7 linked regions of the Homo sapiens genome follow. The protein of the gene in region 6 purifies or fractionates together with the protein of the main gene of each other region. This does not show direct contact. Each region holds a gene or a part of one and is shown on either strand. Other genes may lie near its edges. The genes, in order: DBH, SLC25A13, CANX, PRDX2, PABPC4, PPT1 and CTSD.

What was found.
Region 1: the proteins of PPT1 (region 6) and DBH purify together in Homo sapiens (affinity purification with mass spectrometry; 2 studies listed by BioGRID, with this or other methods). This does not show direct contact.
Region 2: the proteins of PPT1 (region 6) and SLC25A13 purify together in Homo sapiens (affinity purification with mass spectrometry, with the first as the bait; 2 studies listed by BioGRID). This does not show direct contact.
Region 3: the proteins of PPT1 (region 6) and CANX purify together in Homo sapiens (affinity purification with mass spectrometry; 3 studies listed by BioGRID and IntAct, with this or other methods). This does not show direct contact.
Region 4: the proteins of PPT1 (region 6) and PRDX2 purify together in Homo sapiens (affinity purification with mass spectrometry, with the first as the bait; 2 studies listed by BioGRID). This does not show direct contact.
Region 5: the proteins of PPT1 (region 6) and PABPC4 purify together in Homo sapiens (affinity purification with mass spectrometry; 2 studies listed by BioGRID, with this or other methods). This does not show direct contact.
Region 7: the proteins of PPT1 (region 6) and CTSD purify together in Homo sapiens (affinity purification with mass spectrometry, with the first as the bait; 2 studies listed by BioGRID). This does not show direct contact.

Annotation. Positions count from the first base shown.
Region 1 is NC_000009.12:133,639,131-133,643,122, reverse strand, and holds part of DBH (dopamine beta-hydroxylase precursor), read right to left. Parts: intron 3,278-3,992; coding exon 3,131-3,277; intron 917-3,130; coding exon 659-916; intron 1-658. UniProt on the Homo sapiens protein: Catalyzes the hydroxylation of dopamine to noradrenaline (also known as norepinephrine), and is thus vital for regulation of these neurotransmitters.
Region 2 is NC_000007.14:96,315,289-96,319,280, forward strand, and holds part of SLC25A13 (electrogenic aspartate/glutamate antiporter SLC25A13, mitochondrial), read right to left. Parts: intron 1-3,992. UniProt on the Homo sapiens protein: Mitochondrial electrogenic aspartate/glutamate antiporter that favors efflux of aspartate and entry of glutamate and proton within the mitochondria as part of the malate-aspartate shuttle.
Region 3 is NC_000005.10:179,705,280-179,709,271, reverse strand, and holds part of CANX (calnexin isoform d precursor), read right to left. Parts: intron 3,594-3,992; coding exon of another isoform or gene 3,591-3,593; coding exon 3,420-3,590; intron 3,015-3,419; coding exon 2,941-3,014; intron 2,141-2,940; coding exon 2,082-2,140; intron 1,034-2,081; coding exon 892-1,033; intron 295-891; coding exon 213-294; intron 1-212. UniProt on the Homo sapiens protein: Calcium-binding protein that interacts with newly synthesized monoglucosylated glycoproteins in the endoplasmic reticulum. It may act in assisting protein assembly and/or in the retention within the ER of unassembled protein subunits.
Region 4 is NC_000019.10:12,798,839-12,803,261, forward strand, and holds the start of PRDX2 (peroxiredoxin-2), read right to left. Parts: upstream 2,963-4,423; 5' UTR 2,902-2,962; intron 2,433-2,901; 5' UTR 2,424-2,432; coding exon 2,321-2,423; intron 2,232-2,320; coding exon 2,078-2,231; intron 1,462-2,077; coding exon 1,339-1,461; intron 1,152-1,338; coding exon 1,021-1,151; intron 1-1,020. Other genes in the region: THSD8 (thrombospondin type-1 domain-containing protein 8 precursor), read left to right, coding at 3,234-3,381.
Region 5 is NC_000001.11:39,566,485-39,570,476, forward strand, and holds part of PABPC4 (polyadenylate-binding protein 4), read right to left. Parts: intron 3,519-3,992; coding exon 3,379-3,518; intron 3,206-3,378; coding exon 3,111-3,205; intron 2,456-3,110; coding exon 2,318-2,455; intron 1,363-2,317; coding exon 1,267-1,362; intron 1,027-1,266; exon of another isoform or gene 890-1,026; intron 1-889.
Region 6 is NC_000001.11:40,079,898-40,083,889, forward strand, and holds part of PPT1 (palmitoyl-protein thioesterase 1 isoform 1 precursor), read right to left. Parts: intron 591-3,992; coding exon 500-590; intron 1-499. UniProt on the Homo sapiens protein: Has thioesterase activity against fatty acid thioesters with 14 -18 carbons, including palmitoyl-CoA, S-palmitoyl-N-acetylcysteamine, and palmitoylated proteins. In contrast to PPT2, PPT1 can hydrolyze palmitoylated proteins and palmitoylcysteine.
Region 7 is NC_000011.10:1,753,928-1,757,919, reverse strand, and holds part of CTSD (cathepsin D preproprotein), read left to right. Parts: intron 1-363; coding exon 364-596; intron 597-2,891; coding exon 2,892-3,014; intron 3,015-3,781; coding exon 3,782-3,926; intron 3,927-3,992. UniProt on the Homo sapiens protein: Acid protease active in intracellular protein breakdown. Plays a role in APP processing following cleavage and activation by ADAM30 which leads to APP degradation.

The sequences.
Region 1 (3,992 bases), on a different chromosome or scaffold from region 6:
CCAGTGGGAGGCAGGGCAGCCCTGAGGTTAGAGCCCGGGCCCAAAGCGCACCTTCAAGGCCATGCCTCTTCCTGCTGTGTGACTCTGGACACTCACATAACCTCTCTGAGTGCACCTTCAAGGACATGCCCCTTCTTGCTATGTGACCCTGGACACTCAACCTCCCTGGGCCACACTTCCTCTGCTGGAAACTAGGGGCTCTTATGATGAAGGAGGGATCACCTCGCCCCTCCCCCGGGACTAGTGGCATAGTGGACACTCGACAGCTATCGCCTTTGCTATTCTGTCTTCCCCGGACGGGTGTTCGAGAGCAAGTGAGTTCTGACTCGAGCTGCTTTTTCATGAAGGGGGAGGTGGCCTGGCAGACAGACAGCAGTTCCAGTCCCAAGGAAAGATGCAGAAGTCAAGATGTTGGTCACTTTGGTCCAGGCAGGGAAGTGGGAGCTCCAAGGCCCTTTGAGGGTAGGGGAGTGAGCAGAGTGATGGGGAAGCCAAGACCACTTGCTGCTCCCCTGCTCAGGCAGGTGCCTGAGGTTCCAGTGATAAGAGGACACCTGGTCCAACCAGGACTGTGGACAGCTCTCCAGGGTCAGGGACAACCCAGGCCCGGGAGGAAGGCAGGGCTGGGCGAGGACCTCGGCCCTGGACCCGCACGTACCTTGATAATGTGGTGCCGAGAGAAGCCCTTTGGAAGCTCCTTAATGTAGCACCAGTACGTGGTCTCCTGGCTGGGGATCTGGATATTGGGAGCTTGGACCTCCATGGTGCACGCGTCTGAGGGCAACTCCGGTTCGGGGATATTGGGCTTCAGGAGCTGCACCCTCTGCAGCCCCATCTGCAGGCCCGAGCCGTTGATGGCCTCCAGTGACCGGAACGGCTCCTCCAGGATCCCGTAGACCAAGTGGACAGTGCCGTCCTGCAGCCGAGACAGGGTTCAGCTGGTCGCCCTCTCAGAGCCCCCAGAGTTGGGCTCCTGAGAGGATGCCACATCCCTGCCCACCCACACCTACCAGGTGACACACCTCACTCTCATCTCTGTGAATAAGGGACCCTTGAGGCTTGCATGGCCCTGGCTGGGGCCAAATCCCGGGCTGACGACCCCCAGGATCCCCTATTTGCACCGGCCATCAAATACTTTTCTCTTCTAAACACATTCCACCTACATTCACTTAACATCCATTCAACCAGTGACTACTGGGCCCGCCGTGAGCCAGTGTGGCCGGAACATTTGTTCCCTCCACCAACCCCAAGGTCACTGGGGACTGGGTGTGGGGGATCATTGGTCAGTTCAGCAGCCCAGCCTGAGGATTCAGTGCCCTCTATGAAGGGAAGGAAACACCCTGGGGCTTGCTGATGGTCACGCTGAGCTGCGGAGCCACGCTATATTATGTAGTCACCACCAGCTTGGCAGGAGGGGACCAAGCAGCCACAGAAAGCTCCATGGATCTACGCGGTGCTGGAGGCCACAGGCAGACTCAGGAGGCAAGCTGTGGGGCTGGCTTCCTCACATGCTGTCATGAATGGAAACGGGGATCGGGTGTGGAAAGTGCCTTTCATAGCTTTCTGGGCACTCCACAGTGCAGACCCGTGTGGGTGGCTAATTTGCTCTTTGAGTTTGCGGAAAGCCGATGGGCCGCCCTGTGCAGGGGACGCCCAGAACTCCAGGCAAAGGCCCCTATACCTGGCCTGGGGCCACTGGGCTGAGCACACACAGGCATTGGCCTCCCCCTGTGAGGTGCTTCCAGAGGGTTCTCTGCTCACCCTTGCCTCGTCCACTGGGAAGCAGGGTAAGGGCTCAACAACCTCCTGGAAGAACACCTCTTCTGGCACCAGGTCTGCCCCAGCACACCCCGAACCCCTGGGTACATCCACTCCCCGTCTCCGGGCCTTAGTTTCCTCATCTGGCAAACAGCCAGCTGTTCTGTTTTCTTAGATTCCGTATTTGTCTATTTGGCATCTATTAATGGATTGCAGGCTCAAACAGATGGCCAGAGTTGTTTACACCTGCCCTTCCCTCCAACATTCACGCTTGTGTGAGAATCATATTCCCAACCCTCCAACCCGTCCCAAGCCCATATCCTTAGCCACCTCCTCCACCTGACTGTCACACACCAGGCCAATATTGCCTCAGCCCTAAATCACCCTAGGGCCAGGAACCAGGCAACTAGAGACCACCCCGGCCACCCAGAGCCCACCAGAATTGTCCAAATGAAGCAACTTCCCTGCCCTGCCTGGCCTTTCCCATGGAAACCCCAAGAAAGCCTCAGGCCTGGGCTCTCCCCTAGCTCCTGCATCTGCCTCCTGACCAAACCCAGGGCTCTGCAGGTGGCCCTGCACGGCACAGGTGCCCCTTCTCTCCGGAAATGCAATCAATCTTTCGATGGCACTGGCCTCCCGTGTGGTCACTCAGCTACACCCATGATTAAGACCTGGCACTAACGGCCAGCCCAGGCCACTGCCACACCAAAGGATTACTTACACAAGACAAAAGCTGTCAGGTGTGCTAGAGTTAAAAGAGTTTTGTCTTCAAGGGCAAGGTGGGTTGCTTTCCCTAAGAGGTTGGGGGGCTCTTAGAGCAGCATAAGAAGCCTATGGCTTTTACAATGTTTTATGGCTCCCATGAACTCCCAGAGTTGGTCAGGCCATACAGATCATCTAGTTCCCATCTCCATTTTACAGATGGGCAAAGTGAGGTCCAGAGGAGGGGGGCAGTTGTCCCGAGCCTCACAGCGAGCTGGCAACAGGGCCGGGATGGAAAGCCAGGTCGCCTGGGCTCCAGAATCCCACCTGATGGTTAACAGGACCAGGAGGAGAGAGACATCCAGAAGCAAGGTCTAGTCCAATGGGAGAGGCTTCAGCACAAGCCCCGCATCTAGAAACCATGTCAGCTACGTGTTGGCAAAGAGCTGCGTCTTTGAGGGCTCAGGGGCAATAGCAGAGCTGGACCATCCTAAGTGCTTTGGCCCCACCACTGCCTCTGGCCATCCTCCTTGGCTTTCTCTCTGTCATAGCTGGCCAGGCCCAGGCCCCAGACTTATCAGGGACAGGAAAGGTACTATGACATTGGCACAGGATGGCAGCATGATACACGCAGCCCACGCCCTCCTGGGTACTCGCGGCCACCCCTTACTTCAATGAGGTAATCCTTGGGGTCGCAGGTGCCAAAGGGCCTCTTGAAAAGCAGGGTCAGGCCTTCTGGGGTCCTCTGCACCTGCAGCAGCTGGTAGTCCTGCTGGGGATCCAGGTGGATCTGCCCCTTCTGGTCACTCCAGGCGTCCTGCAGAGACAAGCACTGGGCTCCAGGCATGAAGGAGCCAAGCCGGGCCAATCCACAGGGGAAGAGGGCATTCCCCGGCAGAGCTCCGCATTCATTGCCAGCTGATCTGGGGATGCTGGGCCTCAGTCCCTGTGGATCTGAGGGTTCTGCCTGGGGCTGTGGCTTCACTCACACCTTCTATCTCCATTTCTGCCTGGAGACAGTGGAGATGAGCCCCGACAGTGGAGTTGGTTCCTCCTCTGCAGCCAGGAACCAGGGCTGTCACTTGCCAGCAGGTCACAGGTTCTGTTAGCCATGGGCATTCCCGGGCCTGGCGGGCGGGACACTGAGCTTCTTAAGAAGATGCCTGAGGCTCCCAAGGCCTCCTCAAGACTGGGAACAATGCCTCAGACCAATGCTGCCCACATTCATGCAGGCAGGAGAGTTGCGGAGCCTCAGAAAGGGGAGAGTTGGGAACAGGGTGGGACATGAACAGGAAAGGAGAGAGAAACCAGGGTGCCACATCTAAGATGGTGATTGATAGCAGGTGCCCACCCTGCACTGGCACAACCCTGAGAACAAGCACTGCTTTATTACTTTATAAATACATGTAATTTTGGATTTTTTTTTTTTTTTTTTTGAGATAGGGTCTCGCTATGTTGCCTAGGCTGGTCCTGAACTCCTGGCCTCAAGCGGTCCTCCTGCCTTGCCCTCCCAAAGTGCTGGAATTACAGGC
Region 2 (3,992 bases), on a different chromosome or scaffold from region 6:
TGAAGCAATGTGCACCAAAATAACAGTGGTTGTCAAGCTTTCAAAAATCCTGAGGCTCAGGCCACACCCAAGTCCAATTCAATCATGATCTCTGGAGGGAGACCCAGGCATCAGCAGTTTTTTATACCAGTCCAGAAGACTTCAGTATGTAGGGAATCACTGGCCTAGAGCAGTGCCAAAAGCAAAGGCATTCATGGGAATTTGGACCAATAACAAATGTTTCTGGGACTCCATTTCTAGGACTCTCCTGGTAAAAGGGGACAGGACTGAGGAAGGAAAGAGTAAAGATCATTGTGTTAACATAAATTCCAAGGCCATCCAGCTCCAACAAGATAAGAACCCCTAAAACCCAAACAGTGGAGCCATAGATATTTGTTTTAATAATCATCATCATGGTAGCATAAAAACAACTCAAACCTTCTTTCCTCCATTCCTAGCACAAAAACTGATTTGTTTTATTATGATATCACCAAATACTTAGTAGAGTTTTTACATAGGGGAGAAAAAACCCTGCCATTTGAAGAATATCTTTAATAACCTCAATATATTTTATCCTCAATGACAAACCTCTGAAGAGGGTTTTATGATGGGTGAACAATGTGGAAGACATGGAGGTTAAATATACAGCCCAAAGCCTGGGCGACATAGCAAGACCCCCGTCTCTACAAAAAAAAAAAAAATTTTAATTAGCTGGGTGTGGTGGTGTGTGCCTGAGGTCCTAGCTATTCAGGAGGCTGCGGTGGGAGGATCTCTTGTATCCACGAGGTCTAGGCTAGAGTGAGCAATAATCACACCACTGCACTTCCACCTGGGTGAGAGAGTGAGACCCTGTCCCAAATATATATATATATATTATAGTCCAAATCCTAATGGAAACTGGATTAAAGGTATATGACAGTGGTGACAGTTACACAACTCTGTGCATATATTGAAAACCAATAAATCATATGCTTTAAATGGGTAAATTGTATAGTACTTGAATTATATCTCAATAAAGCAATTAAATAAAAGGTATATGACAATTCCTGTCCTGCAGGGATTTGCGATCTGGTTGGAGAGATGAGAAATACACTTAATAAACACTGAAATGAAGCATATACAGAGTGACAAAGGTGTTCTAAGATAAGAACTACTGGACTGGGATGATCAGGAAATATACACATCCATACCCGATGGCATGTGAACTCTCACACATACACCTTCGCAAATGGAACTCTTGGTAAGACCTGGGAGAGCAGCGCAGAGGTTAAGAGCAGAGACTCTGAAGACACATTGGCAAGGTTCAAATCAAGACTGTAGCACTTACCTGTTGCACAAGCGTGAGAAATTACTTAACCTCCCCTAACTCAGTTTTCTCACCTGTAAGTTGAAGTCAAAAACAGAAAGCACCTACTTCTTAGAATTAAGAAAATTAATTGAGTTACTATTTGTAAGGCTCTTGGAAAAGTACCTGGCATGCAAAAAGCACTAGGTAAGGCAGTTCTCAAATAAAAGTCTGGTTTACACTGAGACACCTACCCCTCTCCTAAGTCATCTCCCACACCTCTCCCATATACTTTATTCTCCACCACACTAAACTACCAGGCACACATGGTGGACAGAGTGAGGCCACAGCTGCTGGAGCCAGACTGGCAGGATTTGAACCCCAGCTCGATAATTTCCTAATTATCCGATCTTTTTTATTTTATTTTATTTTTTTGAGACAGAGTCTTGCTCTGTCACCCAGGCTGGAGTGCAATGGCACGACGTCAGCTCACTGCAACCTCCGCCTCCCAGGTTGAAGCAAATTCCCCTACCTCAGCCTCCCGAGCAGCTGAGATTACAAGAATGCACCACTATGCCCGGCTAATTGTTTCCTATTTTTAGTAGAGATGGGCCAGACTGGCCAGGCTGGTCTCAAATTCCTGACCTGAGGTGATTCACCTGCCTCGGCCTCCCAAGGTGCTGGGATTATAGGTGTGAGCCACCGTACCCAGCCATACTTATCAGATCTTAGGCCACTAACATCACCTCTTGGTATCTCAGAGCCTTCATCTATAAAAAAAGGATGATAGTAACTAACTCAAAAGGCTGAGGCATTAAATGAATCAACAACGAAACACAGTTGGAACTGAATTTTAAATGAATCAACAATGAAACACATTTGGAACTGAATTTGGTATCTAGTAAGCGCTCAGTAAGTGTCAGCTGCTTTTAGTTTTTATTACCTGCTGTTAACTAAATGTAGCCTGTGCTCTCACCTCCCAGCCCTTCATTTGTTTCCAACCACTGGATTGGATCTTTACTCTTCCCCATCCATTCCTTCTGAAATACTAGCAATTTTCAGAAGACTTCCCTCATCTCCTCAGAAATGGGCTCTTCTCCTACTGCTCCCACAAACCTTGTAGTGGGAGCATTTCCATCAGAGAACTTAGCCCCCTGGAATGGTTTTGGTTTTCTTGAACATCAAAATGGAGTCCAATTCATTTTATTTATTTTATTCTATTTTATTTTATTTTATTATTTTATTTTACTTTATTTTATTTTTTTTTGAGACAGGATCTCGTTCTGTAACCCAAGCTGGAGTACAGTGGTGCTATCTCAGCTCACTGCAACCTCTGCCTTCTGGGCTCAAGTGATCCTCCTGCCTTAGCCTCCCAAGTAGCCGGGACCACAGATGCGTGCCACCATGCCCAGCTAACAATTCATTTTAGTATTCTCAATTTTGTCCCATTTGCAACACTGGAAAGAACACAATACACATAAATGAATCAATGATCACAGCAACAACTCATCCAAGAATGAAAAGTCAATACAAAGTGTACTAGTCCTACAGACCAAATTGTCTTTATTATTAATGCTTTAATGTGCCCCCAAATTTCCTTCTTTTGGTTCTAGGCTAATATTGGTCTGTGTTCAGTTTTACCCCAGAACATCTCACAGGTCTGAACTCAAGGGAGCATATTCTAACTTTTAGTAGGTTCATATAGGTTAATTACATCATTCGTAACGCATAAATTTAACCAATGACGAAGAAGAAAGCTCTCCTTTAACCAAGAAAAGGGCAGAGACGAAGAAAAGGGTGACCTCTCAATTACCACCTTTTAAAACTGTTTTTTTATGGCAGTTTTGGGAAATGTTTAAAAGAAATATTCAAACAACGCAAACAGTACAGGCAGATCTAACAAGGGAACCCACAAGGATTATTCCTACAAACGTAGGCAGCAAGAGAATGGACACTTTTTGAGATAATCTCAGAATACTAAGAGTTTTAGATTAATGTTCATTCACGAAAGAAAACAAACACTTCTTGAACCATTAACTAGTAATCTTCATAGCAAAATTCAAAATAAAAAGCAGCCAAAGACTAGATTCTCCATCTCCCCATTAAAACTATTTAAAGGAAGGTCATGAATAATTAGCTGTATTTAAATAAGTATAAAGACCAAAGAAAGAAACAGATCAGAAAACTAATTGCTAGTTGTGGCTACATCTATCCAGAAAATACCAAATCTGCTTAAATATTCAAACAATTTGTCACAGTGAGTGTAGTGAGTGTTGGAATTCTCACAGTTGCTGAGTCCCCAGAGTCTCAGCCCAATTTCCTAACAGTCCATTGAGGTGAAGTCCTCTCCTATCCAGGCTCCTCAACTTTTAAGAGGGAATGCCAACCCTACCCCTATGGCTCTGTGTTCAGCTGGCAACATGGAATAGCTATGCTCCAGGGAAAAAGCAAGGAGCACAGCCTTTAACTCAGGCTGCCAACAGAATCAACCGATAAAGGTGATGCCCAAAGGCAGTTCAATAAGGGACATTCTTGGAATAAGTTAGACCAGCAGCTTCATTGAGGGACCTTTTAAGGCCACATTTACTGCACTGCCATTGAGTTATAATGAAGGACATGATAAGAAATGGCCTTATGTAACCCACAGACATATATCTGTGGTCACAAGGTAGATTCAAATGCCGTTCACTCACAGCATATAAAAGAAACTGCTCGGCTGGGCGTGGTG
Region 3 (3,992 bases), on a different chromosome or scaffold from region 6:
TGGCTAATTTTTTGTATTTTTAGTAGAGATGGGGTTTCACCATGTTAGCCAGATAGTCTCAATCTCCTGACCTCGTGATCCGCCTGCCTTGGCTTCCCAAAGTGCTGGGAGCTAGGATTACAGGCGTGAGCCACTGCACCCGGCCCAATTACAAAATTCTTACAAGGTAATAGTGGGTGTCCAGCCACATTCCAGAAATGGGAATTACATACCAGGTTGAGTTCTGGTGTTTTAGAAAGCAGTTTCACATAGGCACCACCACATTCTATTCCATTTTGGAAATTAACCTCATACCTAATATCAGAGAGAAAAGCAGAAAACTGTATGGCATTTTGAAAGATCGAAACTCTCTTAATGTATTTCCTCTCTCCCTCATCTTAGTCACGTTTTATCATAGGTCAAATGTTTACCCTTACAAAGGATTCCATCTTCTATTGTTTTTGAATAGTTATCAAATGCCACAAAAATAAATAAAATTAAATTGAACATTAATGCAGATTTCCAGTAAATTTGTTCTGCAAAATCTACAAGTTATTTAGAGTCAGGAAAATGAGTAACCAGTTTCTTTCAAAATAATGCATTAGGCAGGAAAAACTATTAATTACTAGTTTTGTAATTAATTAATTACAAAAACTATTAATGCAGATTTCCGGTAAATTTGTTCTGCAAAATCTACAAGTTATTTAGAGTCAGGAAAATAAGTAACCAGTTTCTTTCAAAATAATGCATTAGCCAGGAAAAACTATTAATTACAAGGTGTTTAAATTCACCCAAAAATCCCTACCACCACTTATATAATCTCATAATTTTTTAACATAGAGTAAAAGTTACATAATGTCTTCTAAGATTACCCTTTGCAGAAAGCTTTTATCCAACAAGCATTTCACTTACTGAACAATGAGAGGCTTGGTGTCAAACAGGAAGGGCTTGTTCAGTTTAGCAGAGATGGCATGATGCTTGGCCCGAGACATCAACACAAGTCCTTTATCACCTGGAAGCTTTGACTCCTTCATTTCCTCTACCTCCCACTTTCCTACAAGACAACACAAAAAAGTTCCACTGCTTAACTCTACCTCTGAAGGTCCTTTAAATGCCAAAAAAAACACCTCCTAGTTGCATAAATATATTATACTGGGGCAGCCGTGGTCGCTCACACCTATAATCCCAGCACTTAGGGAGGCTGAGGGCAGGCGGATCACTCAAGGTCAGGAGTTCGAGACCAGCCTGGCCAACATGGTGAAACCCCATCTCTAATAAAAACACAAAAATTAGCCGGGCGTGGTGATGGGCACCTGTAATCCCAACTACTCGGTAGGCTGAGGCAGGAGAATCGCTTGAACCCAAGAAACAGAGGTTGCGGTGAGCCAAGATCACGCCACTCTATTCCAGAAGCCTGGGTGGCAAGAATGAGACTCCGTCTCAAAAAAGTAAATAAATAATAAATAAACACACTTTATTTGGCAAATATTATTCAGATATGGCTTTTTAAAACTGTAGTGTATTATACTACTGTCTAGAAATTTCCAACATTCAGTAGCACAGGTGATTAAACAGATCTAATCCTATTAAATATAAGGCTACACATGCACCCCTGAACCTTAAATAAAAAAAAAAAAAAAAAAAAAATTAGGCAACACACAAAGGTGGCAAAACTTCCATGGAAAAATCTTTTTTTTTTTTTTTTTTTTGAGACGGAGTCTCGCTCTGTCACCCAGGCTGGAGTGCAGTGGCGCGTTCTCGGCTCACTGCAAGCTTGGCCTCCCGGGTTCACACCATTCTCCTGCCTCAGCCTCCCCAGCAGCTGGGACTACAGATGCACGCTGCCACGCCCAGCTAATTTTTTGTATTTTCAGTAGAGACGGGGTTTCACTGTGTTAGCCAGGATGGTCTCGATCTCCTGACCTCGTGATCTGCCCGCCTTGGCTTCCGAAAGTGCTGGGATTACAGGCGTGAGCCACCGCACCTGGCTGGAAAAATCTTAAAGCCTACTATGTCCTTTTAAACTAGTCTTAGGAAATGCCATGGAGACAACATGTCAAACCTCTATCTGCTATTATATCTAAACCAAATGGGATTCTCACCATCATATTTGGCAATTTCATCATCGGTATCGTCTTTCTTGGCTTTGGATAAAATCCACCTGTAAATAACAAATCCCAAAATCAGTCTTAAAATGACAGTTGACTTGTGAGGGAAAATTATGTAAATACTCATTAAAGTAGGACCTATTCTGCTCTTAGCCTATTTAACCACTCTACTTCCAACCTTTAAATCTGTCACACAACTAATGATAATACATTATCTTCAACTCACAAACCTATATGAAAAAGTACCAAACCTATGAGATAATTCCACTGATGTTTTAACATCAAGAGAAAATTTTTTTCCTCAATCAAAGAACAAAATATAGGGTAGAGTGGGGGAGGGAAAGAAGTGGAAGTAAAAACCACAAATTCCAAAAGACTATTTTCCTGCATGGATGTTAACACTGAAGATATTAAAGCTAGAAATTTCAGGCCAGGTGCGGTGGCTCATGCCTGTAATGCCAACAATTTGGGAGGCTAAGGCAAGTGGACCACCTGAGGTCAGGAGTTCAAGACCAGCCTGGCCAACATGTCAAAACCCCATCTCTACTAAAAAAATAACAACACACACACACAAATTAGCCAGCATGGTGGCGCATGCCTATAATCCCAGCTACTTGGGAAGCTGAGGCAGGAGAATCACTTGAACCCAGGAGACGGAGGTGGCAATGAGCCGGTATCACGCCATTGCACTCCAGCCCAGGCAAAAGAGCGAAATTCTGTCTCAAAAAATAAATAAATAAAATAAAATAAAGTTAGACATTTCACTATAAAAGATGCTATCCAAAAAGGAATCTACTATCCCATCTTATTTACATGTCTGCCTCTAACATATATTTCTCTGGAAAACACTTACCCTGACAGAGTTCCTCTGTCAAAAGAATCAGCAAAATATACTTCCCCTGTTGGAACTGGAGCTTTGTAAGTAACCTGTGTTAAATACATAAATGAATTAAAAATTTAAATTTTCAGCAACATGCCTTTTTATCTAGAATCTATTCTCCTGGTTTGCTTTCAACTGTCACAAAAATTTCATAGCTGGCCTTCAAATTCAACCCATATAATTGGCCTCTAGCAAGACAAAGGCTGCCAGAGAGATCAATAAGTATTTTCACGAATTTTGCTTTCCCTTTGAAAACGTTCCAAATTTATCTTCACCATGTTTTTCTTTTATATTTTATTAGAGATGATATCTCCCTGTGTTGCCAAGGCTGGACTCACACTCCTGTCCTAGGCCTCCTGAGTAGTTGAGACTACATTTCCCTGCACCCGGGTATCTTCATAATTTTATCATCTCAAGACGTAAAAGGAATAGATTCAAAGACCATTTCAAACCTTGGGAGATGAAGGAGGAGCAGTGGTATCTGGTTTTGAGTCTTCTACCTCTTCAATGACATCGTCAAGGTCATCCTCAATATCAATCACATCATCATCATGTCCATCATGAGCCTCAACAATAGCAGTTCCAAGCACCAGTAACATACACAGCAACCACTTCCCTTCCATGATCTACACATAAAGAGCAAAATCAGTTAAATGTATTGCCACCTATCAAACTTCATGAAGATCACTAACCACTCTCTCATTTAAAATTAAAGCTTTTAAATCGCAGAGCTAAAAAGAACTTACTATTTCATTTCATAGATAAAGAAAGGCAGCCTAGAGAGATTAAAGGGTTTCCCTAAAATCAGTTAAAAGATTCCATTTCTGGAAAATTTCAAAATAAAACTGAAACATACACAACATCCTCATATAGAGAGGATTGGTTACACAGATGTGGGGCATTCAAATACAATTTCCAACAAACTTTTGCATTTGTAAAGTGCTTTACAACAGACAAAAGCCCTTTCATACACTAATTTACAGGGGGTACCCGTTAAAACATTACAATGAAATAACAGAGATGGC
Region 4 (4,423 bases), on a different chromosome or scaffold from region 6:
CTTCCTGTCTTTTTGGCTCCTTTAGTCCCATCTTTGTCCCTCTGCCCCACCCCTACAGGTTTTTTTGTTGTTGTTGTTTTTGAGATGGAGTCTCACACTGGCGCCCAGGCTGGAGTGCAGTGGTGTGATCTCGGCTTACTGCAACCTCCTCCCGGGTTCAAGGGAGTCTCCTGCCTCAGCCTCCCAAGTAGCTGGGATTACAGGCACCTGCCACCGCACCCAGCTAATTTTTTTGTATTTTTAGCAGAGACGCGGTTTCACTATGTTGGCCAGGCTGGTCTCAAACTCCTGACCTCATGATCTGCCCGCCTCGGCCTCCCAAAGTGCTGGGATTACAGGCGTGAGCCACCGCGCTCGGCCTGTTTGTTTGTTTTTTTGAGACAGGGTCTTGCTGTGTCACCCAGGCTGGAGTGCAGTGGTGCGATCACAGCTTACTGCAGCCTTGACCTCCCAGGCTCAAGTGATCCTCCAGCCTCAGCCTCTTGAGTAGCTGGGACTATAGGCATGCTTCACAAACCAAGCTAATTTTTTTTTTTTTTGAGACTGAGTTTTGCTCTGTTGCCCAAGCTGGAGTACAACGGTGCGATCTCAGCTCACTGCAACCTCTGCCTCCTGGGTTCAAGCGAACTCCTGCCTCAGTCTCTCAAGTAGCTGGGATTACAAGTGTGCACCACCACGGCCAGCTAATTTTTTGTGTTCTTCGTAGAGACGGGGTTTCACCATGTTGGTCAGGCTGGTCTCGAACTCCTGACCTCAGGTGATCCACCTGCCACAGCTTCCCAAAGTGCTGGCAATACAACCGTGAGCCACTGAGCCCGGCCCCTTTGTCCACCTTGGTTGAATGTCAGGCGTTATTTGTCTCCTACCACATTAGAAACATCCTGCAGACAAAGCCCTGAGCTGAATCTTCTTTGGGGCCCTAACACCCATCTGGACAGGTAAGAGGACAGGCAGTGAATGTTTGCATGAGTGACGGAGGCGCTCAGTATGTACCCATGTGTCATGTGTGTATCTGCTCACCTTCCCCATGCTCGTCTGTGTACTGGAAGGCCTGGACCAGCCGCAGAGCCTCATCCACGGAGCGTCCCACAGGCAAATCATTAACAGTGATCTGGCGAAGGACACCCTTGCCATCGATGATAAAGAGGCCCCTGAAGACATCAGGGTTCCCAGTGAGGAGCTGATAGCTCCCACTGCCAGAGACAAGGAAGGGACTACCAACCACCCGCTGCTAGCCACAGGGCTGGGGGCAGAGAAGACATTGTACAGGAGTGGTCCCAGCATCACAGGAATGGGGGGCAGGGCGCTCCCTGAGCCGGGCTGAGGGTCCCACAGTACCTGTAGGCAATGCCCTCATCTGTTTTCAGCACGCCGTAATCCTCAGACAAGCGTCTGGTCACGTCAGCAAGCAGGGGGATGTTCAGGGGGCCCAAGCCTCCCTCTTTCCGGGGGGTGTTGATCCTGGGAGTAGGGGAGACAGAGTTGGGGCCTCAGGATGCCTGGCACAGCAGGGTCCTCACCCTGTGGGCCCAATGTGATAAGCACTGGAGGCCGGAGATAAGGGGCTTTAGAGTAGGCCGCTGGGAGCCTCACCCACCCCACCCTGGGTTGGGTGCAAGGACTGTATCCCCATGGCTGGGAAGACTGAGTTTGAGAGGCACAGCTCCAGCTAAGTGGCTTCACATGTACTTGTAACTTGCAGCATCACCCAGCAGAGAGCCTGTGTTAAGAGTCCCCATCCTCCTCTAGCTGTGTCATGGGGTACAGCCCTTCACTTCGGTGAACTGGAGTTTCCATCTTCATGAAATAGGGCAGCACAGCCTCCCTCCTGGGAACTAAGTACATAGAGTAGATAGAGTTGCATCTGAGTTGCATCTGCAACTCTATATACCAGGCAACTAGTTGTCAAATGCTAATTACTGTCATCATCCTTAAAGACTTGGGCGGCAATGTTTCCATTATTTTCACGATGGGGAAACGCAGGTTCCAGAGGTTGAGCAATGGCCACGAAGCCACACTGCTAGGACCTGAGGGTGTGAGCTTAGCTGCAACCTCCCTCTTTGGCCCCTGCTCATACCAAGCCAGGTGGGTGAACTGAGAGTCCACCGAGACGCCCAGCACTTCACAGCCCAGCTTGCGGAAGTCCTCTGCACGGTTGCTGAACGCGATGATCTCGGTGGGGCACACAAAAGTGAAGTCCAGAGGGTAGAAAAAGAGGACCACGTACTTCCCTGGGGAGGAGGGACACAGAGGAGTTAGGGCCCAGCTTCTCTCATGCACGGCCCCGCTTCTACCTGGGCCCCCTCCGGGCGGCGCTCACCTTTGTAGTCCGACAGCTTCACCTCTTTGAAGGCGCCATCAACCACCGCTGTGGCCTTGAAGTCAGGGGCTGGCTTTCCGATGCGCGCGTTACCGGAGGCCATGACTGAAAGCTGAGACCCCCGCCCGGTCAGTGCGCCCGGGAAGACACTTTGTCCTCCCAACCCAAGGTCGCGCTGCGTGCTGGGCCCTATGACTGAGTCAGCACGGCGGAGGCGACAGCACTAACCCTCACCCTCCCGGGTACCCGGTCTACGAGGCCCGGAGGCTGCCGGAGACCCGCTCTCCTGACCAGAGCACGAGTGACCCAGCCACTGCCACCAGCACCCCACGAGCGAGTCGGCCGGAGGGCGGTGTCGCAAGCCCCCAGCCCAGAAGGAGACAGTGAGGCCCGCACGAGCAGGGGGCGGGAAGTCGGGCGATCAGGCCTGCGCTGCAAGGCTGTGGCCTCGGTTTCCCCCGCAAGGACAAAGGAGGCCACTATAGCGGATGGAAAGCAAAGGCGGCCAGCACTAAAGTCAGGATCGGGCCAAAGCAGCCTGAAGGGGGTCCTCCCGCCAGGTGCACTCCGGGTGTTCATACCTGCGTGGGCAAAGGCTAGACGCACGGACGATCACACGCGTGGACCCGCGTTCTCAGCGCCAAGTGAGCCCTGGGCCGCGAAGCCTTTTATGCCCGGCCCGAACCAAGACGTGCACGGCGCGGGGGAGGGAGCGGACGAGCGGAGCGGTCGGGTCCACTGCGCCCGCAGGTGCGGGGGAGCGTGCGGCCGGGTCCATGCGCCTGCGGGCGGCGGGGGGAGACGCGTTGCCTTCGGCCGGGACCACTGCACCTGCCCGCGTGGGTAATGCGCCCGCCGCAGACTCCGCGCACGACTCCGCCTGGGAGCGCGTTGGGGGCCGTTGGAGTCCAGCATGGCGCGGACCCCGGGGGCGCTGCTGCTGGCGCCTCTGCTACTCCTGCAGCTGGCGACCCCTGCCCTGGTCTACCAGGACTATCAGTACTTAGGGCAGCAGGGCGAAGGTGACAGCTGGGAGCAGCTGAGGCTGCAGCATCTAAAGGGTAACCTCAGGCGGCGGGGATGACGATGCCCAAAGGCTCCCCGTTGCCCTACTTCTCCTGCTGGCTGCAAAGGGACCTTCCTCGGCGGGCTGCAAATCTCCACCCAGCTCCGCACTGGAGGCGTCCCCTTGGGCTGGTTACTTTTCTCTAAGGCTCGGTTTACTCTTGGATATATTGAAATAGATACTGCTTTAAAGCAGCTCCCAGGGGAAGAGAGGGTGTGGGCAGGACACTGAAGCTGTCACTCGGGGATAGGTGCCAGGAAGGGCAGAGACAGAGAAAGAAGGGGGCGGGCAAGCTTGGGAAATCAGAGAGGGTCCGATTGCAGAAGACCCGTGACCAGTGCAGCGAGAACGACAAGCGAAAGTCCCATATGGAAAGATTTGGGGAAAGAATGTCCAAGGAAGAGGGAATAGCAAATGCCAAGGTGAAAAGTCCTGAAGGAGAAATGGAAAGAGGTCGGTGAGGTGTGGCAGAGACATGGGTGTGGGAGGGTAGGAGGTGTCAGACCTTGGTGAGCGGTGAGTTGGGATAAGATCGGAGTTGGGATAAGATCTGTCTCATAGGGGAAAGGGGCAGATTCAGTAAAGAGCCCTTTAAAGTGATCACAGTGGCCGGCGCGGTAGCTCACGCCTATAATCCTAGCACTTTGGGAGGCTGAGGTGGGAGGATCCCTTGGTCTCGGAGACCAGACCAGCCTGGCCCACACAGCAAGACTCCATCTCTACAAAAAATATTTTAAAATTAGCCTGACTTGATGGCCCAGCACTTTGGGAGGCCGAGGCGGGAGGACTGCTTGAGCCCAGGAATTCAAGACCAGCCTGGGCAACATGGAGAGACCCCCTACTCTACAAAAATAAATAAATAAATAAAAATAAAAAATAAATTAGCCTGCCATGGTGGCATGCGCCTGTAGTCCCAGCTACTCAAGAGGCTGATACAGGAGGACCATTTGTGCCAAGGAGTTTGAAGCTGCAGTGAGCCATGATTATGCCCTTGCATTCCAACCTGGGTAACAGAGCAAGATCTTGTCTCAAAATAA
Region 5 (3,992 bases), 510 kb from region 6:
TCCCACATTAAGTTCATCATTCACAAATGGCATTCTTCCTAATAGACAAGGTTATTCACTGTCTTCTCTGGTGTGACTGTCATTGTTTTATGTCTTAGTTAATGGCCCAGAGAGCCTCCTGAAGTGGAGGATAGGGAAGTAAAGAAGTGCATCACTCCATAACTCTCTACCAATGAGATGGGCCAGTAAGGTATGTGAATAAAAATGCCACACCATCATAATGAAAATGGGGACAATTCAAGGTATGGCTCTTCTGCTCTCTTAACAAATGCCAACTTGACTACTAGGCAGATAAGCAAGGATAGAAGATCACTCCTTACACTGATGAGGGCCAGTCAAGGGGGGGGTCATAGCAAAAACGAAAGGGTAAGAACTGGGCAAACCCACAGTTGGCCTCTGGCCAACTCCCTACTACAACTGATAACATTGCTTTCCACATTCCCAGGTTGGGAGCAAAGTCCACTAAGAGCCAGGGCAGGGCCACTAAGCCCTTACCAGCCCACGTGGCTTCCCTTCTCATCAACTAAAGGATTTTGTGGCATCTGGTACACCTGTTTAGCAAGACCGGCGTCTGCATCCGGCCATAACTCAAAATGTTCAGATGGCACCAGTTTCCATCCTGCTCCCAAAGTGCCAAGGACAAGCAGTACACCATCCCCATGTAGTCAGCATTCTCTTGTTCAAGGACTAAAATTCCTTATCTTTAAAATGAGGTTCCTACTTACCCTGCTAACTTAGTTGATATGATTATCAAAGAAAATCAAGCAAATGATGCACACTACGAAACATAGAAAAACCTTCCACTCCCCTTTCCTCTCTTTTTAAGACCAGGGTAGAAGTTCCCAAGCCCACCTCCAAAATCTTCAAAATACCTTCATTCTCAAGGAGAAAATGTGGCAGAGCTGTAGAGACAGGCCCCAAGACAAATGGAAAACAACCTGTCTGGATTTCCTCTGCTCATTCTGTAGCACCATCTGTCCCCACACCGGCACGAGGCAGCAAGGAATGGGAAAGATTCAGGTGCTCTGAGTTGGCAAGGAGGGGCTGGGTCAAATTCCTCTCCAGACTCCAGTGCTTGGGAAACAGTGTAATGTTAACCTAATGAAATGTCATTCTCCAGAATGCATCCAGAAATTTTGCTAGAAAAACGTAGTAGCTACTTTCAGAAATGAACATAATTTAAATGCTATTCCTTCAATGGGACAAATGCCAATAAGCCTATAATGGAATACCACTGCTTTCAATCCCCAGATCGCAGTATAATACCTTAGCACTGGTAATTGATCCAAAAGGAGAAAATTCTTTCCTTAATTTCTCATCATCAATAGTGTCATCCAAGTTCTTAATGTAGAGATTCACCCCCTGAAGGAAAAAGATCACTGTTAACTACACTTCTATATCACAAATATTCCCTAAGAAAGTGGTTCCCCAAGGGTGGCCCCAGACCAGGAGCACCAGCATCTTTGGGAACTTGTTAGAAATGAAATTCTCGGCCGGACGCGGTGGCTCACGCCTGTAATCCCAGCACTTTGGGAGGCCGAGGCGGGCGAATCACAAGGTCAGGAGATCGAGACCATCCTGGCTAACACAGTGAAACCCCGTCTCTACTAAAAATACAAAAAATTAGCCAGGCATGGTGGCGGGTGCCTGTAGTCCCAGCTACTCAGGAGGCTAAGGCAGGAGAATGGTGCGAACCCGGGAGGCGGAGTTTGCAGTGAGCCGAGATTGTGCCACTGCACTCCAACCTGGGCGACAGAGCGAGACTGTCTCAAGAAAAAAAAAAAAAAAAGAAAGAAATGAAATTCTTAGGCCAGACCCCAAACCCAATGAATAAGAAAAACTCTGGGGCTGGAGCCCAGCTATCTGTTTTAACAAGCTCTGCTGATGAATCTGATGCAAGTCCAAAGTTGTGAAACTACTGCCCTGAAACTGACAGGATCATCAGTGCACTCACCTTTTGTCACCTCTCCCCACAGCTGTTCTGGTGACCACTCACCCACCCCAGCAGGGGTCTTCTTGAAGCCATGCCAAACAAAGGAGTCTCATTTAAGTAAAAGGAACCTACATGGCTAAAAGCAACAGGCTGAGGCTTCCAAAATAGAGAGCTTCTTGATGAATAAACCCATCTCTTGTTTCTGGTTCTATAATAATCAGTCATATGTAGTAGGTATATATCCTTTTAAACCTCATCTTTTTAGGTAAAATGGGAAGAAGAACACACTCCAAGTCCTCAAAAAGAAAGCCCGCTAAACATAGGGGTGTTCTGCAAATATTTCACAGCAAATCCCATTGCTAGGCTGGGCCAAGACCACCTTACCTGATATCGACTAATTCTCTCCTGTTTCAACTGTTCAAATTTCCGTTTTAACTCTGCCTGCCGTTCTACTTTCTTTTGTGCACGGCCTACAAATATGATTTTACCACTTATTTCTTTTCCATTCATCTCTTCCACAGCCTAGAGAGGAAAAATATGTCTTTAAAATAAAGTTGCAGCGATGGGGTCTTATTCTGGAGGTCTAAGTCCCAAAAAATATTCTTTCTACTATAGGACTAAAAACTAAATTCACTCCACCTCTGAAGTCTGTCACACAAATCCAAACTTCCTCATCTGTAAAGTGAGGTTAATATTTAAATGGGTTATTGATCCAGATAATATAGAAATAGTACAGGTGTATAAACACAAGTGTGCTGACATGAGCCTAGGGCGATATAATATTCCGGCTGCCAGTAAATTCTGCAGGTGCTTTTGTGGGTATTTAAGTGATAAATATTGAGGGTCTGGCACAATGCTTTGCCCACAAGTAGCTGCCGTGCTGTTATCAAATCAGCACTCACTGGGCTTTAGTTCTCTCACCTTTGCAGCATAACAAACGTCTGTCCTATTCTTTCAACAACTGATAGCTGAGGTGACAGGTATGTGCCAAGTGCTTTGTAAACACCTACATGAAGTTAACATGCGGAACCCAGGAAGATGATCCCAGAGTATAGTAATGGTACATCTACTACCAGATACTCAGACCGTCCCAGCTCTAGGTAGGTGCTAGCAAGACCCTACCCATACTCTGGGGCAACCTCTTAAAAGCTTTTCCCAATCTTTGTGGTATACTCACCTTATTGGCATCCTCGTGTTTTTCGTAACTCACAAAGCCAAAGCCTTTGGATTTCCCATTGGGATCTCTCATCACCTTGACACTTAGGGTCTTACCTATTACCAAAGGACAGAACTATTAGTAACACCATCTTGAGCACAGCTCAGGAACAGAAGGCTTCCCTCTGGAAACTCACTTGAAGCAAATCTCTGGAGCAGTGCCCTCATCTCTTAAGAAAAAACAGATGGGTCTGGTAGACTGTGAAAGGAGACAAGGAACCCCAACTTACCAAACTGACTGAATAGCTCTTTCAGACTCTCATCATCCACCTCTTCCCCAAAGTTTTTGATATAAACATTGGTGAATTCCTTGGCTTTGGCTCCAAGCTCAGCTTCCCGCTCTTTGCGAGACTTGAATCTGCCCACAAATCTAAAATGAAACCATGAAGAACAGTAATTACCCAGAGGAATAAAACATGATGTCCAGGGACCCAAAGGAATACAGGTTAAAGACTGACAGGAGAGGTTAAAACACGAGATCCCCATCCACCACCAAGGAGGCTCAGAGATACCCCAAGTCCCCAGCAGAAAGAGAAAAAGGCAGGACTATCCTGTGAGGACCAGCCCCAGGGCTCCTGGCTTAGACCAGGGCTATTCCTACCACATCACACTGCCTTCATGAAGAAACCTGATGGCCATGTTTTTAAAATGTTCATTTCTGTGCAACTATGTAAATGCATAGAAAAGGTCTGGAAGGATACAAACCAAACTGTTAACAGTGGTTAATCCTAGATATGAGATTGTTGGAGTGAAGGGGCACCCTTTGCTTTTTAAATTTATTTATTTTGGTCTGTTATACTTAAAAGAAAATTTATCCATGCACTGACATTTTTGTATTTCTTTT
Region 6 (3,992 bases):
GTTTGTTTTTCCCTTCAAACTGTTTCAAAACAAAAAACCAAAAGACTCTCCAGATGAGTCAAATATAAACTGAGCCATCTAGTTTACCAGAACCTACCAAACCATGTTTGTGTCTGGGACATACTCAGTGCCTACTGTATCTCTCTTTTAGGTAAATCTCTAGAGAAAAATCCACCCCCAGACTGATCCATCAGGAAAGCTTCCCTCATTAAGACAGCAGCTGTGAATTTCCACCTCGCCCAGTCAGCAACCTGCCGAGCTTATCCTGTGTGTTTCAACACTAGGAGAGGGAAAGAACTTAAGGGAAGAAAGGCAAATGAATTTCAACCTCCCTAAAGGGAACTGAATCTCAAAGGCCCTGCCTCCCAAAAAAAACAGAACTTCTCTTTCCTAGTGTCTGCCCAGGACAGTTTGGGTAAACAGTCACTGCTGATTTGTTTATGAAGACCTAAACAGGAAAAAGAACGCACATCTATGGGAGCCCGGTTTGGGTGCTTACCCGCTCCTGATTTATATCTGCCAAGAAGATGCTGTGGTTGCGATACACATCCTCCTTTATGGGGTCATGCCAGTATTCGGCTTGCACGAGGCTGTAGGAAAAAAAAAGAATGAGGTGATCAAGCTACAGGTCAGTCAGTACGCCCAGGGCATGCTCAGTGCAAAGGCCACCAAGAGACTTTAAAAGGACAAAAGGCCAGCCAGGCACAGTGGCTCACACCTGTAATCCCAGCACTTTGGGAGGCTGAGGCAGGTGGATCACGAGGTCAGGAGTTCAAGACCAGCCTAGCCAAGATGGTGAAACCCCGTCTCTACTAAAACTACAAAAATTAGCCAGGCGCGGCGGCAGGCGCCTGTAATCCTAGCTACTTGGGAGGCTGAGGCAGGAGAACTGCTAGAACCCCGGCGGCAGAGGTTGCAGTGAGCTGAGATCGCAGCACTGCACTTCAGCCTGTGCGACAGAGTGAGACTCTGTCTCAAAAAACAAGGACAAAAGGCCAAAGCCCTCAAGTCCCAGGCCTTACCCTTTAATACAGAAGACAAGACTTGCACCTAGGAAACAGTCTGTCAACAAGACACCTTGTTGAGACAGACTGTTCAGCATAGTACAGAAATTATAAAAGATTCAGGCAAAGGACTCATCAATATTTGCTTCTCCTGTGACACTGGGGTTTATCATACTTATCATGCTGATATGGTTTGGCTGTGTCCTCACCCAAATCTCATCTTGAATTGTAACTCCCACAATTCCCATATGTCATGGGAGGTGACTGAATTACAGGGGTGGGTCTTTCCTGTGCTGTTCTCGTGACAGTGAATAAGTCTCATGAGATCTGATGGTTTCAAAGAGGGGAGTTGGGCCAGATTCTGTGGCTCATGCTTATAATCCCAGCACTTTGGGAGGCCAAGGCGGGCAGATCGCCTGAGGTCAGGAGTTCGAAACCAACCTGGCCAACATGAGGAAACCCCGTCTCTACTAAAAATACAAAAATTAGCCAGGCACGGTGGCATGTGCCTGTAATCCCAGCTACTTGGGAGGCAGAGGGAGGGAGAATCGCTTGAACCTGGGAAGCTGAGGTTGCAGTGAGCCAAGATCACGCCATTGCACTCCAGCCTGGGAGACAGAGCGAGAATCCATCTCAAAAAATAAATAAATAAATAAATAAATAAATAGAAAATAAAATTAAGAGGGGAGTTTCCCTGCCCAAGCTCTCTTCTTTTGTCTACCGTCATGTGAGATGTGCCTTTCGCCTTCCGCCATGATTGTGAGGCTTCCCCAGCCACATGGAACTGTAAGTCCATTATAAACCTCTATTTGCCCAGTCTCGGGTATGTCTTTATCGGTAGCATGAAAACAGACTAATACAGTAAATAAGTACCAGTAGAGTGGGGTGCTGCTGAAAAGTTACCCAAAATGTGGAAGTGACTTTGGAACTGGGTAACAGGCAGAGGCTGGCACAGTTTGGAGGCCTCAGAAGAAGACAGGAAAATGTGGGAAAGCTTGGAACTTTCTAGAGACTTGTTGAATGGCTTTGACCAAAAGCCTGATAGTGATATAGACAATAAGGTCCAGGCTGAGGTAGTCTCAGATGGAGATGAGGAACTTGCTGGGAACTGGAGCAAAGGGGACTCTTTATACTTTCTTTCCAATCTCTCTCCACTTCCTCTTCCCTTCCAGCCCCCACCTCCTCAAAATGGGCACGGTTACCCCAAGGCCTCACATGGGGAAATTCGAACAAACTCTATCCCAGGTTGGCAGGGAGAGAAATCAAAATTTCTACAACATACGCTCCGTAGCCAGAGTGGAAGAGCTGCCCAGAGGCAGTGGTCCTGAAAACGCCACTCGGTGGAGCAGGCTGGCGCTAAAGCCCAACAGAGCCAGCTACGTCAGAGATGGAGCTCTCCCTCCCAGGAGCAGATGAGACTGAAGTTAAAGGAAGCAACAGTCAGAGTGACATTCTAGAATGTGTTTATACATGTATTTGAAACCTTTTAAAGGTTTAGAACTCTGAACATTTATAGAATGCAAAAAAAAAAAAGTTCCTGAGGAAAATTAGAAGTGTTATTTCAGTGAACACACAAATAATAAGGAAGCAAAACAGTCTTATTGCTGCTATGGAGAAAATCTGAGTGGTCTAGATAGAAGACCAAACCAGCCACAACATTCCCTTAAGCCAAAGCCTAATCCAGAGCAACGTCCTAACTCTCTTCAATTCAATGAAGGCTGAGAGAGGTGAGGAAGCTGCAGAAAAAAAGTGTGAAGCTAGCAGAGGTTGGTTTGTAAGGTTCAAGGAAAGAAACCATCTCCATAACACAGGAGTGCAAGATGGGGCAGCAAGTGCTGATGTAGAAGCTGCAGTAAGTTATCCAGGAGATCTAGCTAAGATACTTAATGAAGGTGGCGACCATAAACAACAAATTTTCAGTGTAGGTGAAACAGTCTTAAATTGGAAGAAGATGCCATCTAGGACTTTCACAGCTATAGAGGAGAAGTCAATGCCTGGCTTCAAAACTTCAAAGGACAGGCTGACTCTCTTGTGAGTGCCTCATGGAGCTGATGACTTGAAGCTGAAGCCAATGCTGGGTTACCATTTTTTAAATCCTAGGGCCCTTAAGAACTACGCTAAATTACTCTGCCTGTGCTCTACAAATGGAACACAAAGCCTGGATGACAGCAGATCTGTTTACAGTGTGGTTTGCTGACTATTTTAAGCCCACTGTTGAGACCTATTGCTCAGAAAAAAAGATTCCTTTCAAAACATTACCACGCAGCTGGGCATGGTGGCTCATACCTACAATGCCAGCACTTTGGGAGGCCAAGGTAGGAGGACCATTTGAGGCCAGGAGTTCAAGACTAGCTTGGGCAACATAGCAAGACCCCACCTCTAGAAAAGAAAATTCTTTTTAAAAGTAGCCGAGCATGGCGGTGCATGCCTGTAGTCCTAGCTACTCAGGAGGCTGAAGTGGGAGGATGGCTTGAGTCCAGGAGGTGAAGGCTGCAGTGAGCTGTGATCACACCACTGCACTCTAGTCTGGGCAAGAGAGCACAACCCTGTCTCAAAAACTATTTTTTTTAATTAAAAAAAGTTTAAAAACAAACTCAAAAAACAAACAAATATTACAGCTCATTAAAAAGCACCTGGTCACCCAAGCGCTCTGATGGAGATGTACAAAGAGATTAATGTTGTCTTCATGCCTGCCACAGCACATCCATTCTACAGCCCATGGATCAAGTAGTAATTTCAATTTTCAAGTCTTATTATTTAAGAAATACATTTACAAGGTTGTAGCTGCATAGACAGTGATCCCTTTGATGCATCTGGGCAAAGTAAACGGAAAACCTGATGGAAAGGATTTATCATTCTAGATGCCATTAAGAACATTAACGGGCTGGGTACCATGCACTTTGGGAGGGTGAGGAGGGAAAATCAGTGGAGCCCAGGAGTGTGAGACTAGCCTGGGCAACATAAATGAGATCCTATCTCTACAAAAAA
Region 7 (3,992 bases), on a different chromosome or scaffold from region 6:
TGGCCCAGGCTGTGTCTTGTTCCCAGCGCTGAGGGCAGGAGCAGGACCTGCCTGTCATTGGTGGTGGGAGTAAGAGGTCGGAGCAGGGAGCGGAGCAAGGGGCCTGCCCGTCTGTGCTCCTGCCTGGTTCCCATCTCGTGTAAACCGAGCCCTGATGACTTCCACGAAGAGGGCCCCGCCATACCCCGTGTCCCCATCCCCAGCGGTGTTCAGCTCAGGGTTTCCAGCCCTTTCTTCTGGGCCCTCTGGGCCCCATCGTGTGTGGGATGGGCATCCATTGAACTGGGTTTTGTAGCCTCATGCTCAGGGAGTGGTGTAGGGCTCAGCCTGTCTGCTGCCCACTGACTCTGCCCTGGCCTGCAGGTGCCCTGCCAGTCAGCGTCGTCAGCCTCTGCCCTGGGCGGTGTCAAAGTGGAGAGGCAGGTCTTTGGGGAGGCCACCAAGCAGCCAGGCATCACCTTCATCGCAGCCAAGTTCGATGGCATCCTGGGCATGGCCTACCCCCGCATCTCCGTCAACAACGTGCTGCCCGTCTTCGACAACCTGATGCAGCAGAAGCTGGTGGACCAGAACATCTTCTCCTTCTACCTGAGCAGGTGGGCGTGTGGGTTCCCTCTCGCTCCGCGTTGCTGGGAGGCAGGGCGGGGCTGGACGGGGAGCCTTCTAGGCACCCCCTCTCAGTGCTGCCCCCTCCCTGCTGCTGTGCCAGAGCTCCTGACCTCTGACCTCAGGGCATCCGGGAGGCGGGGGTTGGCCGCCCTTCTGCAGAGGAGTAAGCGGCAGCACAGAGAAAGCTGTTTGGCCGGGGTCTCCCAGTGGGAGGGGCTCGGGCCAGGCTGTGGGTCCTGGGACCTTGGCAGCTGGGCCTCCCTCCTATGAGAATGGACCCAGGTCAGGGGTCGTGGCAGTTCCTCTTGGTTCAGTCGGCCCGTCGGTCCCCAGACCTGGTGATGGGCACATGTGGTCCTGGTCCCGGGGTTGCTGATGGTGGAGAGGGTCATGGTGCCCAGGGGACCGGGGATCCCCGGGGAGGTGACCTTGGGTGCGTATGGGTCCCCGGCACCACGCTGCGAGCAGCTCTGTGGGCGTCCCCAGCAGGTGCCGGCTGCCCTCGAGGAGGAACATAGGGGGCCCTTCCTTCTGGGAAAAGGGTTCTCCCCCAGGGCCCCCACCTGCAGCCGCTGCTCCAGCTTGGGTGACCCATGGTCAGGTGACCTTGGGAAGGGGACGTCGGACTCAGTTAGTTTCCTCTTCTCGGGGCAGACCTGAGTGGAGGGTTCCACATAAGAGGGGTGACTGGGGGTTGGGGGCTTTTGTTTTGGGGGTGGGCAGCGTGTCAGCCGGCGGCCTCCTGCCCTGAGCTGCGCCTGGTCACTGCCCCACACTCTCCAGGGCTGACAGGGGCAGGTTTACCTCACGTGGCTCACTTGGCACTTGGAGTCTCTGGGCCTGACCCCTAACCTTGGATCGCTTCCGGCAGAATTCCGGCTGTAGGGCTGGCTGGGCCTCTTTGCTCTGCCCCTTGCCTGGGCAGTGAATACTCCTTAGCAACACCCAGGGCTAAGCTGCTCACTAGAGGCCAGGACACAGGTGAACCGGCTGGGCCATTTCCCCAGGAGCCTTGGGGCACAGGGGAGGCAGCCAGGTGAAAAGGGGTCCCCTGAGGGCAAGAGGGCATGCAGGCATGAGTGCCCACATGGGGAGGGGGCACACAGCCTGAGTACCCAGGTCAGGGAGGGGGACACAGGCATGAATGCCCATGTGGGGGAGGGGCACACAGCATGAGTGCCCATGTGGGGGAGGGGCACACGGTATGAGTACCCAGGTCGGGGGAGGCATACACAGGCATGAGTGCCAGGTGGAAGGAGGGGCACACAGAGTGAGTGCCCAGGTGGGGGAGGTGCACATGGTTGTGAGTGCCCAGGTGTAGTCTCAAGGCAGCAGCTTGGGCAGGAAGTGGAGCCAGGCAGGAGGGAGGGTCTGAGGGCTTCTGAAAGCATGTTTGGTGAGGAGAGGAGGGGTGGGAGGCGCTGATCAGGTTTCTACACTTGGGATTGCAGAGGTGTTGACAAGAGGCAAAGGCGGAGGAGGCTGGAGGAGGGCGGAGGCCCCAATCGGTGTTGGGAGGACTGGGTCAGGCCTGGCACTGCCTCGAGTGACAGGCAGTGGGATGGTGGCCAGCTTAGCTGCAGACGCTCTGGCGGGATGGCAGAACCGCCCCAGACACAGAGAGCTTCTCTACCAGGACCGGCAGGATTTGCTGCGTTGAAAGCTGTACTTGAGCAATGTTTAGAAACAAACCCGGGCGACATGGGTTGCAGGTCCTAGGAAGTGCAGTGCGCTCCTGCCCAGGAGCACCTTGGCTGGCCATCAGTGGTCTGGATGAGGGGGAGATGAGCGGACGTGGCTCGGGGATGCAGGTGGAGGGTGTTCCCAGGAGCAGCCAGTGCAGAGGCCCTGCGGCCAGAACCAGCCATCCCAACTTCCCAGATTGTGCCATCACTCCCTCCTGGAAGCCTTCTTTGGTTTTTTCTTCCAGACAGACAGACAGGGTCCTCCCCAGTGGAGCTCCTGGCACTCACTTCCTTGTCTGCCGCTAGCCTTGACCCTGATGTCTGGCTGAACCTTGGCTCCTGAGCAGACCAGGAGAACCTGAGGGTTGAGGAAAACCTCTTCTGGGCCAGGCTGGGCCCACGCAGAGCAGCCCTACCCCGGGAAGAAGGGAGTCTGTCCCTCCTCCTGCCTTCTGGGCCTTTCCATCCCTGCAGTTTCAGAAAGGCCCCTCCTTCAGGAAGCTCTCCCTGATTGCCACATTCACCCTCTTACTCCTGACCTGGCACTCTTGTGCTTGGGGGGTGGCGTGGCAGCTGACTCCTCCCTTTTCCTCCTAGGGACCCAGATGCGCAGCCTGGGGGTGAGCTGATGCTGGGTGGCACAGACTCCAAGTATTACAAGGGTTCTCTGTCCTACCTGAATGTCACCCGCAAGGCCTACTGGCAGGTCCACCTGGACCAGTGAGTAGTGGCTGCAGTCGGCTCCCCTGGGTTCTGTGGGCGGGGGCGGTGTGCGGAGACCCTGGAGGACCCCGGTTCTGCAGGTGGGGGTTGCATGTGGGGAGTAGTGGGAGCTGGGCAAGAAAGAGATGGGGTCAGACCAGCCCTCCATGCCCCTCCTTGCCCCTCCATGCTCCCCATCACCTCCATCCCCTCTATTCCCTCTATCCCTCCATCCCTCCATTTCCTCCATGCCTCTGTGACTCTCCATGACCCACCATCCCTTCTGTCCATCCCTCCATGCCCTCCATCCCCTCCATCCCCTCATCCCTCTGTGACTCTTCATGACCCTCCATCTCCTCCATCCCTCCATCCCCTCCATCCCTCCATCCCTCCATCCCCTCCATCCCTCCATCCCTCCATCCCCACATCCCTCTGTGACTCTCCATGACCCTCCATCCCCTCCATCTGTCTATCCCTCCATCCCTCCATCCCTCCATGCCCCTCCATCCCTTCATCCCCTCCATCCCCTCCATCCCTCTATGCCCCTCCATCCCCTCCATCCCTCCATGCCCCTCACCACCACCTGAGGGTCTCCCACCCCCTCTACCACTCTGTGTCTCCTCTCCCACCCTCTTCCCTGGAGGGCTTACAGCCGGCTGTGCTTCCAGGAGCCCTGAGGGGAGGAGAGTGCAGCCCAGCCAGGGGAGGGGCTCCCAGGGAGGGGCACTGGGCCCCCAGGGCACACTCCAGTCCCGGCAGGGGCTTCACGCCCTGACTCCCCGCAGGGTGGAGGTGGCCAGCGGGCTGACCCTGTGCAAGGAGGGCTGTGAGGCCATTGTGGACACAGGCACTTCCCTCATGGTGGGCCCGGTGGATGAGGTGCGCGAGCTGCAGAAGGCCATCGGGGCCGTGCCGCTGATTCAGGGCGAGGTGAGCGCCGGGGGCTGGGGCTGGGGCTGGGGCTGGCAGGGGGAGCCCCAAGGCCACCACTACCAC